2 separate regions of the Homo sapiens genome follow, and region 2 is linked to region 1. Evidence: fine-mapped expression QTL. Tissue or cell type: whole blood. Region 1 holds a variant in brackets; the other region holds the start of a gene. All regions are shown on one strand. Distances are between the middles of the regions.

Evidence for each region. PIP is the estimated chance that this variant, and not a neighbour inherited with it, causes the effect.
Region 2: it holds the start of HERC3, and the variant in region 1 is fine-mapped to the expression of HERC3 in whole blood (TOPMed, PIP 0.92).

The regions. Positions count from the first base shown.
Region 1 is chr4:88,695,088-88,703,268 of GRCh38, forward strand. All of the region lies in intron 23 of HERC3 (HECT and RLD domain containing E3 ubiquitin protein ligase 3), which reads left to right. NAP1L5 (nucleosome assembly protein 1 like 5) reads right to left here and starts at 2,742. Exons shown (of 1, transcript NM_153757.4): 1 at 826-2,742. The coding sequence starts at 2,667. The coding sequence ends at 2,119. RefSeq lists an enhancer at 2,832-2,891. The variant A/G (reference allele first, on the strand shown) is at 4,834.
Region 2 is chr4:88,587,786-88,595,966 of GRCh38, forward strand. HERC3 (HECT and RLD domain containing E3 ubiquitin protein ligase 3) reads left to right here and starts at 4,695. Exons shown (of 26, transcript NM_014606.3): 1 at 4,695-4,789; 2 at 7,772-7,829. RefSeq lists silencers at 4,201-4,260, 4,431-4,990, 5,311-5,720.

The DNA.
Region 1 (8,181 bases):
AAGAAATCAATATTAAATTTTATTAGATTTTTTCTCTATTAAGATAATCATATGATTAAGATAATCAGAACTTTGTATGTAACGTATTATTCTGATTTTCTCTTTTGGTTGGCCTGAGCATAATGAAGATTAACTTTACCTTAAGGTTGTTTGTACTCAACAATCTGTTGTGATTAGCAACAGGTCAGTGCTGCCTTCCATTCCCTAGGATAAAGCAATATAATTTTGCTTCTTTGTAATTTTAACCCTTCAGGGAAAAGGAAGCAAATGGCATCTGATTTTTTAATTTTTCTGGAGTCCAGTTTTTAAAAAAAACTTTCTGCTTCATTCAGAATGAAGCAAACATAAAGTTGAAATAGCCTTTTTTATCCTTTCTGGGAGATGATAAAAACCTGATATTATATTGAGGAAACCAAAACAAGATAGTTTATTTAATTTCCTGCATTTCTGAATTAAAGGCCACATTCTTCTCTCATAATAAGGAATCAAAAACATAGGGAGGGATGTAGTGATGTCTCTTTCTCCCATTTTGTAACAGGAGAGGAGGATTGAATTTCCAATCACTGTCTTTATCTTTCATGTAATAATAATAGCTAAGAATTATTCAGCACTTACCATGGTTTGGATGCTATTCTATAGGATTTATATGTATTAATCCATTTGCTCTTCATAGTAACCCATGAGGAAGGGACTATTCCTATTCCCTTTTGTAGATGAGGAGAAACTGGCCACTGAGAGTATTAGCTGAGTTGCCTAAGGTACATTACTAATAGGAGGCAGAGCTGGGATTTGAATGCAGGCAGTCACAGTACCGAGTCTTTTATATATATTTTTTGAAAATACTGTTTTATTAACACCACAGTGATAAACAACTTTAAGCTTATGTTTCTTTATAGATCACTGGCTCACACATAATTCAAAACCCACACAGAAGCTAAGAGTCTTTACATTAAATATATTCTTCCTAAAAATCCTTACTGTATGCATCTGTCCTCAAGCAGTAAAATTTGATTATGCACCATTTTATAATTAATATGTCACATTTACATAGCAAAATAATGAAGGCACAGCTAATACAAGCAAACTTAAACCCTTTCTACTTCTGAGCTGGGGGTAGGGGCACACACTTGGATTGGTTCTTCAAGTATATATTTTTTCCAAACATTAGCTTCAGTGAAGAGTTCTGATGATTTTCACAGCTACACCCTAAAAGCTACATGACAGAAAGACGTCACAAGGCGCAAAGTACATAACGCTGGATACACATGCTTTACATAATTTGCTACATTCTACATCTCTTCAAGTAAATTAATATTTCTAAAACGCTAGGTAAAGTGATTTAATACTTAAACATATTTGGGGTATTTTTTACGTGTTTGTAAATAGACAGTACTAAGAAAACACAAACATGAGATTGTAACTAATGAATACATATGTTGACAGTATTTTACAGGTTTTACACCCTCCTTCTTGGAACCATGTTGTTTCTCTAAATTCAAATACTCAAAACATTTTTCAGAACTTGAAATGGCAGTTTTCCTGGCCTTATTAACAGTAGTGTCATGATCTCCATTGCAATCTTCCTCAATGCCATCAATCTCCTGTGAAGTGTAAAGCTGATGTCTGCGTTACAAAAGCAAAGTCTCAAAGATGACGTTTTTCTTGGGTTCTGCCTTCTCTGCACTGCGAAATGTCATGAGTAAAGAAATTTAAGAATTAAGCACTGAGAACGTGTTCAGTCATGGCTTGGGTGTTCCATGTGTAGCGTATGCTGTGTGATGAATGGGTTTCAAAGTGACGTTCTTTACTTCGCATCTGCTAACACCCTTTGTAAACCTCAATCCTCAGAGAAGAGACCATGAAAACATAATTTTGGGTTTAATTCAGTTTTCTTTAACACCTTTTGATATATTTATTATGTTCAAAATGAAAGTCAAATTTGAATCGAGCTGGCCAGGATCTAATTGCTTTAATTTAATCTATTTTAGGAATGTCAGAATAAATTCACATTGTATTTTGGTCAAAAACCTGAGCCTTTTTAAGTCCATCGATATTCTGGGAAAAACAAAACCAGGCTTTTTTCTTCGTGGGCTTTCTCTTCATCCATCTCTGCCCCCCTTACTTCTTGGCGTCATCAGGCATCTCGGCGTGGGCATCGTCATGTTTGGCCCCCGCGGCAGCCTCTGCCGCAGCCTCCTCCTCCTCCTCGTCTTCCCCCTCCTCCTCGTCATCCTCGTACTCCTCTTCCTCCTCCTCCTCCCCCTCCAAGGTCCATGCACACCCCTCCATCTCGCCGGTGAGCTCTTGGATCTTGGCGAGTAGGGGCTTATAGATGTCATTATACTTTTTTTCCAGAGCCTGAAATTCCTTATCAAATTTGGCTTCTATCTTATCGCATCGCTTCTGCAGCTTTTTGAGGGCCAGGACTCGGCATTTCACCGAATTAGGCAGGCTCTCGATAAAGTCATTTTTCGGCTTTGGGGCATTCTCTGCAGGGGTCTGGGGCTCCTCAGCCATCTGACCAGCCGCGCTGTCAGGGTCACCAGCCGCGCTGTCACAGTCTCCACCCTGCGCACCGCCTTCCGCCATTACCTCCTCTGCCGCTGCCTCCGCCGCTGCCGCCGCCTGGCTAGGCTCCGCAGGCCCCTGGTTTTCCGAGTCGGCCATGTTAGAGGAGAAGCCGCAGAGGTCTAGGAGGGCTCCCGCAGAGGCCCTGCACCCGAGCTGGTCCAGAGAGATCTTGCGGATGCGGCAAGTGGCGGTGACGTGCGGCCGCGGGAATGACGTTGGCCGCGGCCCCGCCTCCTGCTTTCGCGGCACTTGACTGGCTTCCCACTATCAGCTGACGGCCGTGTGCTCATACTGCACCAGATTCCTCCTGTTGCTACCCTGACATCTTCTGGGCCCTCAACACCCGCCTGTTGGACAGACACCCTGTTCCCAGCCCACCCATGTACCCACCCCTGTAGAGCTGGGCTGGGAGTGTCAGTAGCTGCCCGAGGTGCTTCTTCAGGAACTGCATAGATGGCCTCAGACCATTTTCCGTGTGCTCCTCACCCCCATCCAGGCCCTTCTACAAATGCCAGTGCATATGTCTTCGCTTTCCTCTGCATCTCTCTCCATAGCTGGCGTTTGATCACCTCTTAGATTCCTCCGCATTCCTCTCCATGCAGTGGAGGAACGGGCAAGCTGGCTCCATTCCACCCCTTTGGGGACCTGGGGTGCATGTGTGTGGATAGGGCAGCTTGCATATCCAAGCTCTGTACCTATGTGTCCACCCAACACCCCCTTGGCCATCCCACACACCTAGCGGCATATATCTTGGTGGCAAGGTCGTCTCTCAGCAGGACTCCCCTGGAAGCAGTTTTGGAGCCATTTGGGTAGGAAATCTCAGAGCTCCCGGTGTCCTGGTGTGTGTTCTAGAAGATCCTACAGAATCTTTGGCCTGTGGGAAGGACTAAAGCTTGAGGAGGGCTGAAAAAAAGCAAGTCTTTCTAAAGCATGGGGCCCAGGGCCAAGGCCCCCTCTTATCTTGGTTAAAGCATGTGCCATCTATCCCACCCCGCTCACATTCGTCTTCCCTGCCTTCCCCCAACACCGTCTGCTTCCCTGCCTTCCCCACTATCTGTTTTCACACCTTTCCACACCACATCTTCTCCCTCCCTCCTGCCCCTCCCCCGCACTGACTTATGCCCCACCTTCTGCCCATCTTCTTCCCCGCCTTCTTCCCCACTCACTGCCTCCTTCCTCACCTTCCCCCCGCCGCACTGTCCTTTTCCCCACCTTCCTCACCCTCTTCTTCCCCACCCTCCTTACCCTCTTCTTCCCCACCTTCCTCACCCTCCTCACCCCCTTCTTCCTCACCCACTGCCTTCTTCCTCACCTTCCCCCCACCGAACTTTTTCCTCACGCTCCTCACCCTCTTCTTCCTCACCCTCTTCACCCTCTTCTTCCTCACGCTCCTCACCCTCTTCTTCCTCACCCTCTTCACCCTCTTCTTCCTCACGCTCCTCACCCTCTTCTTCCTCACCCTCTTCACCCTCTTCTTCCTCACGCTCCTCACCCTCTTCTTCCTCACCCTCTTCACCCTCTTCTTCCTCACGCTCCTCACCCTCTTCTTCCTCACCCTCTTCACCCTCTTCTTCCCCACCCCCTAGCCCCACCCTCTTCCCACCCACCCCCAGCCCCGCCTTCTTCTTCCCCACCCACCCACCCAGCCCCACCCTCTTCCTCCCCACCCACCCACGCAGCCCCACCCTCTTCTTCCCCACCCTGCCCACCATCTTCTTCCCCACGATCTGTCTTCTTCCCCACCTTCCCCCACGGTCTTCACCACCTTCCCCCAACCGTCTTCTTTACCCTGCTCACCATCTTCTTACTGGCTCACCATCTTCTCTGCCTTCTTTCTCACTCCCATATATCATCTCTTTTGATGGCTACAGCTGCCTTGAGATTAGGAATGATGTTTCTCATTTTACAGATAGTAAACTTAGAAGCAAATACAGTGAAATCATCTTACTGCATGTATCACTTAATTGGCAGATGCAGGGGCAGAAAACAGGCCTTTTGACCCCTATAGTATGGATGTTGTGACAGACTTTAAAAAAAAAATCCCACATTTTGGTTAAATTCATTTGACTAACTTAACTTGCTTAAAATATTTAGGGCATGTTCATCTTTCAAGATTTTTATTTTCCTGTCTCAACAGATCTTAAAACTTAGTGTTAAACCAGACTGTTTTTTAAAAAGTCTGGCTTATTGAGGTATCATTTACATAACAGTAAAATTTGTCCTTTTGGGCGTGCTTTCACAAGCAAATACAGTAATGTAAGC[A/G]CTGTAGTAATCAAGATATAGAACAGTAAATAGTCCCCTAAAAGTCCGTTGTGGCCCTTCCCCAGCATCCAGCCCTGGTGAGCACTGTGCTGTTCTCTGTCTCAGTACCTCTGTTTTTTCCAGAATGTCAGGTAAATTGAATCATATGAATGTAGCCATTTGAGCCTGGCTTTTTTTTTTTACTAGCAGAGTACATTTGAGATTGATTTATGTTGTTGTATATATTAGTAAATTTATTTTTTATTATTTTTTATTTTACTTTTTATTATTGGGTAGTATTCCCATTTGTGGTGTTTGCAGTTTTTCATAATTGTGAATAATGCTGTGATCATTCATCTACAGGTTTCTCTATGAGCATGGACTTTTATTTCTCTTGGGTAGACACCTAGCAGTGGGATTGCTGGGTCATACAGTAAATGTACGCTTAACTTCATAAGAAGCTGCCACACTGTTTCCCAAAGTGGCTTTAATCTGTTTAGTGTTGCTAAAAAGGAAGACCGGAGGCTGCTAGCTAAAAGGTTCAAGATTGGGCATGTAGATGGTGAGAGTCTCAGGCTGCTTCCTGAGACTGTTGAGCTATTTCTACCAATAGTCCCTTAAGTGAAATCTAGGTTTTTCTATCAAGCTCCTCAAAACTCTTTCAGGCTCTACCTATTTCCTCATTTCAAAGGCACATCTGCGTTTTTAGGTATTTGCTGTTGTAGTACTGTACTTCTTAGTACCGAAATCTATATGTCAGTGTTCTCCAGAGAAACAGAACCAACAGGGTGTGAAGCCGAGGGGGGTGGGGGCAAGGAGGGATTTATTTTAAAGAATTGGTTCATGTGATTGTGGGGGCTGTCAAACCCGAAATCTGCAGGGTAGGCTGTAAGGCTAGAAATTCTGGCAATAGTTAATATTTAAATCTTGAGTCCAAAGACAGTCTGGAGGGAGAATTCTTTCCTCTTTGGAGGACCTCAAGTCTTTTTCTCTTAAGGCCTTCAGCTGATTGGATATGGCCTACCCACATTATGGAGGGTAACCTGCTTTACTCAAAGTCAATGAATTTAAATGTTCATCCCAACTAAAAAAATATCTTAACAACATCCAGACTGGTGTTTGACCAAACAACTGGATGCCATAGCCTAGCCAAGTTGACCTATAAAATTAACCATCACAGTCTGTAATAAAAATTGTTGTGATGGTGTTTCTCTTGGGTAATTGTATCAGAAAAATGTCATTAGTTTAGTGTCATGGGTTTCAGAGAAGTGAGGTGTTATATACGGTGTGAGAAACTTTCAGCATCAATGATTAACATGCACAATAATCTTTTTACATTAGTGGCTTTATTTTAAAGATTGCACAGTTATACCATTTTAAAAATGGGAAAAGGGAGGCTTACTAGTTAGATACAGAAGATGGCAGAGCCTGGATTTGAACCCCTGTCTGCCTCACTTATCCACTGTATTACACCATTTGTTGGCTAGTTATTGGTGTGGATGGTGAACATGTAAAAACTATCTGCTTGGAGGAAACCCAATAATTCAAATGTAGCTTTATGAAGTATTAAATTACAGTGATGGATAAGTAGTAAATAACTATCTTCATGATGTGAAGTTTTAAAATTGTTTTTAATCTAAAATACAAAAAGTTAATGTGACAAACATTTGTATATATGATCCACAGTCAACAGGTATTTGCTTCAGATTTTTTAATAAAAGAAAAAAATTACTGATACCGCTGTACATACCCTTAATTCCAAATTACTGATACTGTTGTACATACCCTTAATTCCATTCCCCTCTTCCCGCCCTTCTTTCTTACACAGACAAAACTCTTATGAATTTGATATGTTTTTTTTATGTTTTTATACTTTTTATAATAAACATGTATGTTAAAACAGATTTTTTTTTTTTTTTTTGAGATAGGGTCTTGCTTTGTCACCCGGGCTGAAGTACAGTGGCGTGATCATGGCTCACTGCAGCCTTGACCTCCTGGGCTCAGGTGATTCTCCCACCTCAGCCTTCTGAGCAGCTGGGACTACAGGCATGCACCACCAGGCCTGGCTAATTTTTTGTGGAGACTGGGTCTTGCCATGTTGCCCAGGCTGGTTTTGAATTCTGGGCTGAAGCCATCTGCCTGCCTCAGCCTCCCAAAGTGCTGGGATTATAGGCATGAGCCACTGCACCTGGCTAGACAAAGATCTTTTTACATTAATGTCTTTGTTTTTAAAAATGAACACTTACACATCTTATGTATGCATCATATTTATAATTTCATACTCATAAGCAAAATCTCATATCCATAAACAATATGATAATACTAGTTAATACTTACAAAGTAATTGTTATACACCAGCCTTGGTTTAAGCACTCTTACATGTATTCACTCATTTAATCCTAAAGCAGTCCCATGTGTTATCTACTCTTACTCTCCCCCATTTTACAAATGAGGACACAGGCATGGAGAAGTTAAATAACTTGCCCAAGGGTCACAAGCTCTGAGTGACAGAGCTACTACCTTTTATAAGTAGCATTGTTTTAAGTGTTAAAACACAACTTACATAAATGCCATCATATTTTACTGAACATGCAAATACTTGATTTTCACTCAGCATTGTTCTTGAGATTCTATTCATTTTGCTAAGTTTAGATCTAGTTAATTCCATCAAAGTGCTCTGCTTTATGGTTTCCATCATATGACTCTACCATCTTTTCCTTGTCCATGTTCATATTAATGGATGTTTAGTGTTGTTTCTCTAAATTCTCTATATTGCAAGAAAATGCTGCAGTAAACTTGCCTGCACTCATCTTCTTGTGCACACATGTTAGCGTCTCTGCATTACCTACCCGCTAGCACAGTGGCATGGTCAAGGGTATTTACATTTTCAACTTATCTAGATATTGACAGAATTTCCCCCCAAAATGTTTATGTCTAGGTTCACAGTTTATATTTCCACTTGTGAGAGACTGAATATTCCTATGGACAATGGCCAGGCCATATATAAATAAACATGGAGCTGAGACCCACAATCTGCAGCAACCTGCCCGGGAAACCAACCTCTTATCTGCAATAAGCAGCCCAGGAAGCCAGCCTGCTATAAGTCAGACTTGCAGGCAGCCTGATTGCCATCTGTCTCGATAACTTCTGTAACAGTGGGCCCAAATAGGCCAGGATGTGATTAATAATCAGCAGCTTCCCTAATTTTTGTTCCTACTTCCAACTTAGGGCCAACCAGAGAAAGCCAAATACACACCCTTAACCAGTCACATAGGATGCCCCACTTCTAGTTAGCCCACCTGCAGCTTCCCCAGACTAGCAGCCTCCAATCAGAGTGTACCTGAAGCCTTCCCTCTTTCCACTGTAAAG
Region 2 (8,181 bases), 110 kb before region 1:
CTGATTTTTGGCAGTTACATGCATGTATTCTGTGCAGCTACATGATGACAAACGTGATCTTTGCTGCTTTTGCCCAAGCACTTATTTTGCCAGTCCAGTCATAGTGAAATGTGGGATGCCATTTCTAAGAGCACATATTAAGGGACTTTTTAAAAGGAGGAACCTTCACGAAATACTTCACTTCCTAAAGGCTTTATTGGATGAAATCTTCAGAGACCAGCTAATGCTCAACTTAAAGGTTTTCTTAGAAAATGTTCAACCATCCAATCCTGTTATCATTAATACATTTTAATTTATATGAAAACAATGAGTTTCTCATAATTAAGGTAAGATTCTTATGCTTCATCCAAATGGCTTGATAAGAAAAAAATGCAAACAAACCATGAATAGTTTCAAGGAAGATAGAGAAATAATCATAAGGGCTGTAAGCTCTTTGTAGTCAGGAATGATGCTTCTTGTCTAGCAGTACTACAGGTGGAACATATTCAATAATATTAAAAGATTATTTGATGGTAATACTGATTTACCATAATGTTTTTATTCTAAGTTGTTTCATATTAATAAATCAATGCTGTGTGTTACAGGACAGTTTTTAATAAGTTTAGTCTGGGTATAGATAGACTGATTTTTCCATTAAGTACTGACTAGACTGAGAAAGTAAGTACTTCTTTTGGACGTGGGGGACCAAGAAACACCTTTGTCATTACATAACCATACAAGGTACACATACTTTTTACTTGTCAAATAATCAGTCAGTGCTTTTCCCTCCTAAAGATATTTATTCTTCAATGGTGTATCTGAGAGACAGAATGTCCTGGGTAGCCTGTTTTTTTCCACAGATTTCATCCAAGATATCAGAAATCTATCTCTTTCAAAGTTTACCAAGTAAATATTTGTCTGCAAGGCAAGTAAATTAAACAAAGGGAAGAAAGGAAAACAATTATCATTAAACAGTATTACCATTCTATTGAAAAATGGTTTCATTTGAAAATAGATGTATTTTAAGAAGTGAATGGTAACTAATGGAGGAAATCAGCATGTGTTCAGGTAGAAGTGCAGCAGCCCTGGGCACCATCCCCTTGCCACTGGGCATACCTTGTCTAACCAGTGATAGAGCTGAACCACATGGTCCTGTCCCCCTGTCAAAAGTTATGGTTAGTTTAATCCTTGCTCCTCGGGAGGCTAAGGCAGCAGGATTGCTTGAGTCTAGGAGTTTGAAGCCAGCCTGGGCAACATAGCAAGATCCTGTCTCTTAAAAAAAAAGTTATGGTTATATGTGTGTGTGTGTGTGTATGTGCACGCGTGTGTGCGTGTGTGTGTGTGTATTTGGAGTCTCCTCTGTCATCCAGGCTGGAGTGCAGTGGTGCCATCAAAGCTCAATGCAACCTCGAATTCCTATGCTCAAGCTATTCTCTCACCTCAGCCTCCCAAGTAGCTAGGACTAAAGGCGTGCCCCACCATGCCTATTTTTATTTTTTGGAGAGACAGGGACTCACTATGTTGCACAGGCTGGTCTCAAACTCCTGGCCTCAAGCGATGCTCTTGCCTCAGCCTGTAACCCAAAGCCCTGGGATTACAGGGGCATGAGCCTAGAATTTATTAAGCCTTTTATTTTTAACATGAATGTTTTTCTTTTATAAAATTTATACAGGTTAGCAAGTATATATTCCTTGGTACAATTATTTGGTTAATGTTTGTCTCCCCTTTCATGGCAACAAAGACTGTACTGTTTTGCTTACCAATGTATTCACAGGGGCTGACATTATTGTAGGTGCTCAGTATATAGTACGTTTGTTAGAGAATATATGAGAATGCAGAAAGAAATGGATGGAAGACAGGGCTATAGAAATGGAAGGAAAAAGTAAACCATGGCCTCTTCAAAACAGTTTACGTATCTGCTGTTAAGACTATTGCTGATGCTGGAGCCATTTAAAGCCATTTTGAAGCAGGACATGCTTGCTAAGGAAATTGTCATTATATGTTGTCCCAATGAAAAAAAATAAATCGAAGTACTGTGGTATCTTTACTGTTCTATGTAAGTTCTATGTAAGTTCTCAGGGTTTGGCTATTTATTTGGTAAAAGAAGCTTACAGTATCCTAACTTGTTATTTATACATTGCTCCTATCCCATTTCTAGGCTTGAGTCTTTGATAACCATCCTTTTCCTCAAGATGAAATTTCATATGAAAAACACTTGAGCCGGCCGGCACGGAGGCTCACGCCTGTAATCTCAGCACTTTGGGAGGCCGAGGTGGGCAGATGATTTGAGGTCAGGAGTTCTAAACCGGCCTGGCCAACATGGTGAAATCCCGCCTCTACTAAAAGTACAAAAATGAGCCGGGTGTGGTGGTGAGCGCCTGTAATCCCAGCTACTCGGGAGGCTGAGGCAGGAGAATTGCTTGAGCCGGGGAGGTGGATGTTGCAGTGAGCAGAGATCGCGCCACTGCACTCCATCCCAGGCAACTGAGCGAGACTCCTTCTCAAAAAAACAAACTCCGGGCGCGGTGGCTCACGCCTGTAATCCCAGCACTTTGGGAGGCCGAGGTGGGCGGATCACGAGGTCAGGAGATTGAGACCATCCTGGCTAACATGGTGAAACCCCGTCTCTACTGAAAATACAAAAATTAGCCGGGCGTTGTGGTGGGCGCCTGTAGTCCCAGTTACTCAGGAGGCTGCGACAGGAGACTTGCGTGAATCCGGGAGGCGCAGCTTGCAGGGAGCCGAGTTTGCGCCACTGCACTCCAGCCTGGGCGACAGAGCGAGACTCCGTCTCAAAAACAAAAAACAAAAAAACAACAACAAAAAAAGAAAAACACTTGAGCCATGGGCCAGACATATCAACCCAAACACTGATTGATTACAAACCTCATATGTGACACCTAACAATAGGATCTCTCACTTTCTCCTTTGCAAGTACCGGACTCCTTCGTCTTCCTACCAGACTCCTCTTTGGGCATTTAACCAGTTCTTTTGCCAACAGCATCTCTAAATTGGGATTGCATCTTTGTAATAGACTAAACTTTTGTGAAACTGCCACATATCTGGAATATAAGTGAATTGTGTTACTCTTGTCCCCAGTGTTTCTTTTTTCCTTTTTCTTTCTTTTTTTTTTTTTTTTGAGACAACGTTTCATTCTGTTGCCCAGGCTGGAGTAAGTACAGTGGCTTGATTTCAGCTTACTGCAACCTCCGCCTTCCAGGTTCCAGTGATTCTCCTGCCTCAGCCTCCTGAGTAGCTGGGACTACAGGCGCACACCACCCTACTCGGCTAATTTTGGTATTTTTTTTTGTAGAGACAAGGTTTCACCATGTTGGCCAGGCTGGTCTCGAACTGCTGACCTCAAGTGATCCACCGGCTTCGGCCTCCCAAAGTGCCGAGATTACAGGCATGGGCCACCGCGCCTGGCCATCCCCAGTGTTTCTAAACGTGTCAAGTGTGATCCAAATTTCAAAGGTTTGGATTTTTTCTTAGATGACCTGATAACTTAGATTCTGCTTTTTTAGCTTTCTTGTCTCAGTGTACTGGACAATTTGCATTATTTCACGGAGGGCTCAACACTGTCAGTCAGCCAACAACGTCTCATCCCCAGGATACACCACTCCTTGAAACTTTCTTTTCTACTTGGTCAGTCTGTTAGGTTCTCAGGACGAGCGATTGCAGACCTGAGGTGATTTGAATGTCCTTGGTAAGAATCTATCCTCAAAGGGCCTTCCTGCTTCAAATGCCAGGTTATAGAAATTCTTCCACTGGGAGAGTTATTCCTTTGGATTAAAGCAGTACCGTGCCAGTGTTCTGCATTTTACATTTAAGGGGGGCAGACACATGAAGTCACCTTTCTGAGGTTTTCTGCAAAAGATTAGCTGTGGATCAGATCAGGTCTAGGGCAAGTATGAAAGCACTAGTGACCTTGGGGAGGGGGAGGAAGCTCTGGGATTCGGCGCTAGGGAAAAGTGGAAGAGGACAAACTTTTAAAAAATCCGTTACTGGGTATAGGCCACAGAGTGTCTTTCAGATTACAAGATTTTAAGATCTGGTGCTCAGACTCTTCTTGCTATGCTCCCCCCGGGTCCACCCTCCAGCCTCCCCCAGGCCCGCCTTTCTTCCGCAGCCCCGTGCCGGTCTTCGATCCCCACCTCTCCAGAAGAGCGCCGGCGGCTGCCGCGTACCTCCTTCCCCGCCTCTCCCACCGCGCAGCGCCGCGGGCCGGCGCCGCGCTTCCTACAGTCCTACGAAGGGGAGTAAAGCAGAAGACTAGCGCACTCTCCCTCAATTGTCACCCTCCAGCTTTTTCCCCCGTGCCCAAGGCTTTCGGTCACCTCTTCATAAATAATAAAAACCAGAGTCCAGAACCTGAATAGGCAACCGCTGATCGGTCCAGCTCGCTTCCCCGCCAGTGAAAAGCAATCTTATTTCAGCGTCAACGCTCTATGTCTTGCAGTCCGATTTCGGCTGACACACCCGTGCCGCTGTCCCCGCGCCGGGCCCTCGAGTCCTGTCACCTCGGGCAGCCTGCGCCTGGCTCTGGGGCCTGGGCCTCTCCCCTCCTCCTGCCCGCGGACCTTGCCGCCCCGCCTCCAGCCCGTGCCACGGCGGCCGCCATTGGCGCGGGCCCATCCCAGAACGGCGCCCATTGGCCCGGTGCGAAGCCATTCACCCAGCGCATTCCGCCGCCCGCAGGCTTGCGGGGAAACTTCCTTATTATTGTGACGCCGAAAACGGAGAAACCCCGGGTCCGGCGAGAGGGGCTGTGACAGTCGGAGTCCCAAGCTGCGGTTCGGCTGCTGCCGAGGTGCGCAGGGCGGGGGCCGGGGTTCCAGGGAGGGGGGTACGGCGGAGCTGCAGCCGCGCTGGGCCGCGTTCCGCCTGGCACTGCAGTCAGCGCGCGGCTCCCGGAGGGGCGGCTGCGGCTCCTCCCGTGGCTCCGGCGGCGGGGGCTGCAGGCACCTCCAGAGACGACCTGGGTCTGGGGCGCGGGGAGGTTGGGGCGCGGCGCCCTTAGTACCCTGCGTACGCCTCCCTGGCGTTCTCGTGGGCTCGCCCTCCGGTCAGAGAGCCCCGCGCCGGGAAAGGCGAGACAAGCCTTCAAAATGGGAGCGCCTCCCGCCCGCGCTCGGCCGCCCTCCCGCCCTGCCGCCCGGGAGGAATTGCGACGCAGAAAGTCAAAAGGAGGATAGTCCCTATGCTCGCCCCCTGCCCCTATTTAAATTCTGGGGTTCCAGGGACCTCCGTGCAGTGAGGGGCGCGGACGCTTTCAATTGAAATGGGAGCTGGCGAGGCCCTGGCATTTTGGGGAACCTCAGCGGCCGCGAGGAGTTTGCGCCGAGGACGCGGTGCACGGCGTCCGCGATGACAGCGCCGGCAGGGCTGCGGGGCCCGGCACCACCCACTTCGCGGAGGCCGGGCCGGCTCGCCTCTCCCGGGTCCGCCTCCTGGGCGGGGCCGGGGGCGAGGGTGTGTGCGGACACGTGTGTACGGGTGTGTGTGTGTGTGTACGCCGACACGTCGGTGCGGACCGACGCGGGGGTGTCAGGAGCTGGGACGGCCGGGGGCAGGTGAGACTTGAGTCATTTGTGAATGTGTGGAGTGGGCAAACCAGGGCAACCAGACCGAGAGGAGCATGTGTAACCTGAAACAGGTGAGCCTATGGAGACAGTACCTAATGCGACTGTGCACGGAATATGTGTATGCAGCATGAGCTCCAGGGAATAAGTATTTGAACTTTGCTGTTGGTCTGTCACTGTTTCTGGCTGCTTTCTGATTGCATTTTACATCAGCTTTCAAATGAGCTCAATTAGGAAGTACCTAATTCAGAGAAAAGCCTTCCAGGATTTTGCTTGCATTCATCACGCATAGAATGCTTTGGGAAAGACGATTCAAGAGCTCTCTTCCATTTGTATGTGTCTTCTGGCTCTTTCCACAAATAAGAAGCTATTTCTAGAACCTTTTATTTGATGATTAGATAAGATCAAGTGAGCTGATTTTTCAACTCTAGACTTGAGAGAAATGAAAAAATAAAAAGTTTTAAATGCGGTGATCGGGTATCATGTTTTAGTCGGCAGATTACTGTGAAGCTCTCTCCTTTTGTACTTTCCTTTACCCTGGGGGAGGAGGGAGTAGCATTATAAATCAGAAAAGCAAAGTACATGGATTGCATATCCTAAAGCAAAATAATTGAATTACATATTTTACATCATGGTCGTACCGCCTTCGAGGCTAGGAACTTTCTGTAAAAAGTATAATGCAGGGAACAAGGAGGACAGGTTAGAAACCTCTTTGGCAGAACTCCTTTGGCATGAAAAACAAAATTAGCACATTAGCACTAGCATCCAGTTCTTGTTCAGTAAGTAGCTGGAGTTTACTTTTTGAAAAAGAAACAGGGATTTCAGAATGTTCCATGTTGTGTGCTTGAAGCCATTCGTTATAGCATTTCATTCTGAAGACCAAATTTAAATTTCTTAAGATTTGTATGACCAATTAAAAACTTTTTTTATACTTAATGAGAGTAGTAGTACCCCTACTGGAGACACAAGATAGTTATGCTTCAGTTTTATAAGTAAAAGTACTATTCTCCAGATCGAATGGGATTTTCTGCATAGAGAGGTAGAAATAAAGTTATGACAATATCTTTTCTTTCGAGATGGGGGGTCTCGCTCTGTTGCACAGGCTGGAGTGCACTGGTGCGATCTCGGCTCACTGCAACCTCCGCCTCCCAGGCTCAAGCGAATCTGCCACCTTACCCTCCAAAGTAGCTGGGACCACAGGCGTGCACCACCATGCCCAGCTAATTTTTTGTAGTTTTTGGTTTCGCCAAAAGACGAAACGGGGTTTTGCCATGTTGCTCAGGCTGATCTCCAACCCCTGGGCTCAGGCTGTCCACCCGCCTGGGCCTCCTAAAGTGCTTGACAAAAATATCTTAAAATCATGGAGGACTTTTTCTTTTGAGATACTTTAGGTATCTCTCTGAGATGATCTCTTCTCATTTTGCATGATGGAGGATGTGGTAATGAAAAGGGAAAGACCGGGTGCAGTGACTGGCTGGGCGCAGTGGCTCACACCTGTAATCCCAGCACTTTGGGCGGCTTGAGACGGGTGGATCACTTGAGGTCAGGAGTTGGAGACCAGCCTGACCAACATGGTGAAACCCCTTCTCTACTAAAAATAGAAAAATTAGCTGGGCGTGGTGGCGGGCGCCTGTAATTCCAGCTACTTGGGAGGCTGAGGCAGGAGAATCGCTTGAACCTGGGAGGCAGAGGTTGCAGTGAGCCGAGATCGGCCACTGCACTCCAGCCTGGGTGAAAGAGCCAGACTCTGTCTCAAAAAAAAAAAAAAAAAAAAAAAGAAAAGGAATGAAAGGAGACAGTCTTCATAACAGTTGTGGCAAAACAAGCTGCTATGTGTCATACATGGAAAAATAAAGAAAATAGACAAAATTTAATTATTTTCCAAAATTTTCTCTAACAAAAATGGGAGATTTTAAAGTAATTCCATTTTTACTACTCCCTATCAAATGTCAGGAATTTTTATAAGGTGATATCTATATCTCTAGTTCACTTTTAGAGGTGATTGATGTCTTTATAACTGGTTAGAGGTTATCTTACTGGTATTTAACCAAACTCCTGTCTTGAGATACAATGCGTGGGGAATATTCAAGATTGAGTAATTTAAAGATATTCTTATTTTCAGAGGTTAACTCCTGTCTTTTTGTTTACAGTAACATGAAGACACAACAGAGTTCCATACTAATGTTATTTATTATTTCTTTAACTTGCAGAACTGCAAGGTGTGGAATATTTCTGGCTTCTAGTCCAATGCCAAGTGTGTGACCTGTGGTGAGTTACTTAATTTTTCTGGACCTCAGTTTTTCATCTTGTAAATGGAGTCCTTTACATGCATTATCCTGTTTAATACTCTCATCAACTCAAGCTAGGGTAGCTACCTAGAGAGGGACCTAAACAAATCTCAGTGCCTTCCTGCTGCTCTAAGATAGTGAAGAGAACAAGGTGAGCCCAAGAAGTAGGAGACCTGGTTTCTGGTCTCTGCTTCAAGCACTTAATTCTTTTTTTTTTTTTTTTTTTTTTTTTTTGAGAGGGAGTCTGGCTGTCGCCCACGCTGGAGTGCAGTGGCGGGATCTCGGCTCACTGCAGGCTCCGCCCCCCGGGGTTCATGCCATTCTCCTGCCTC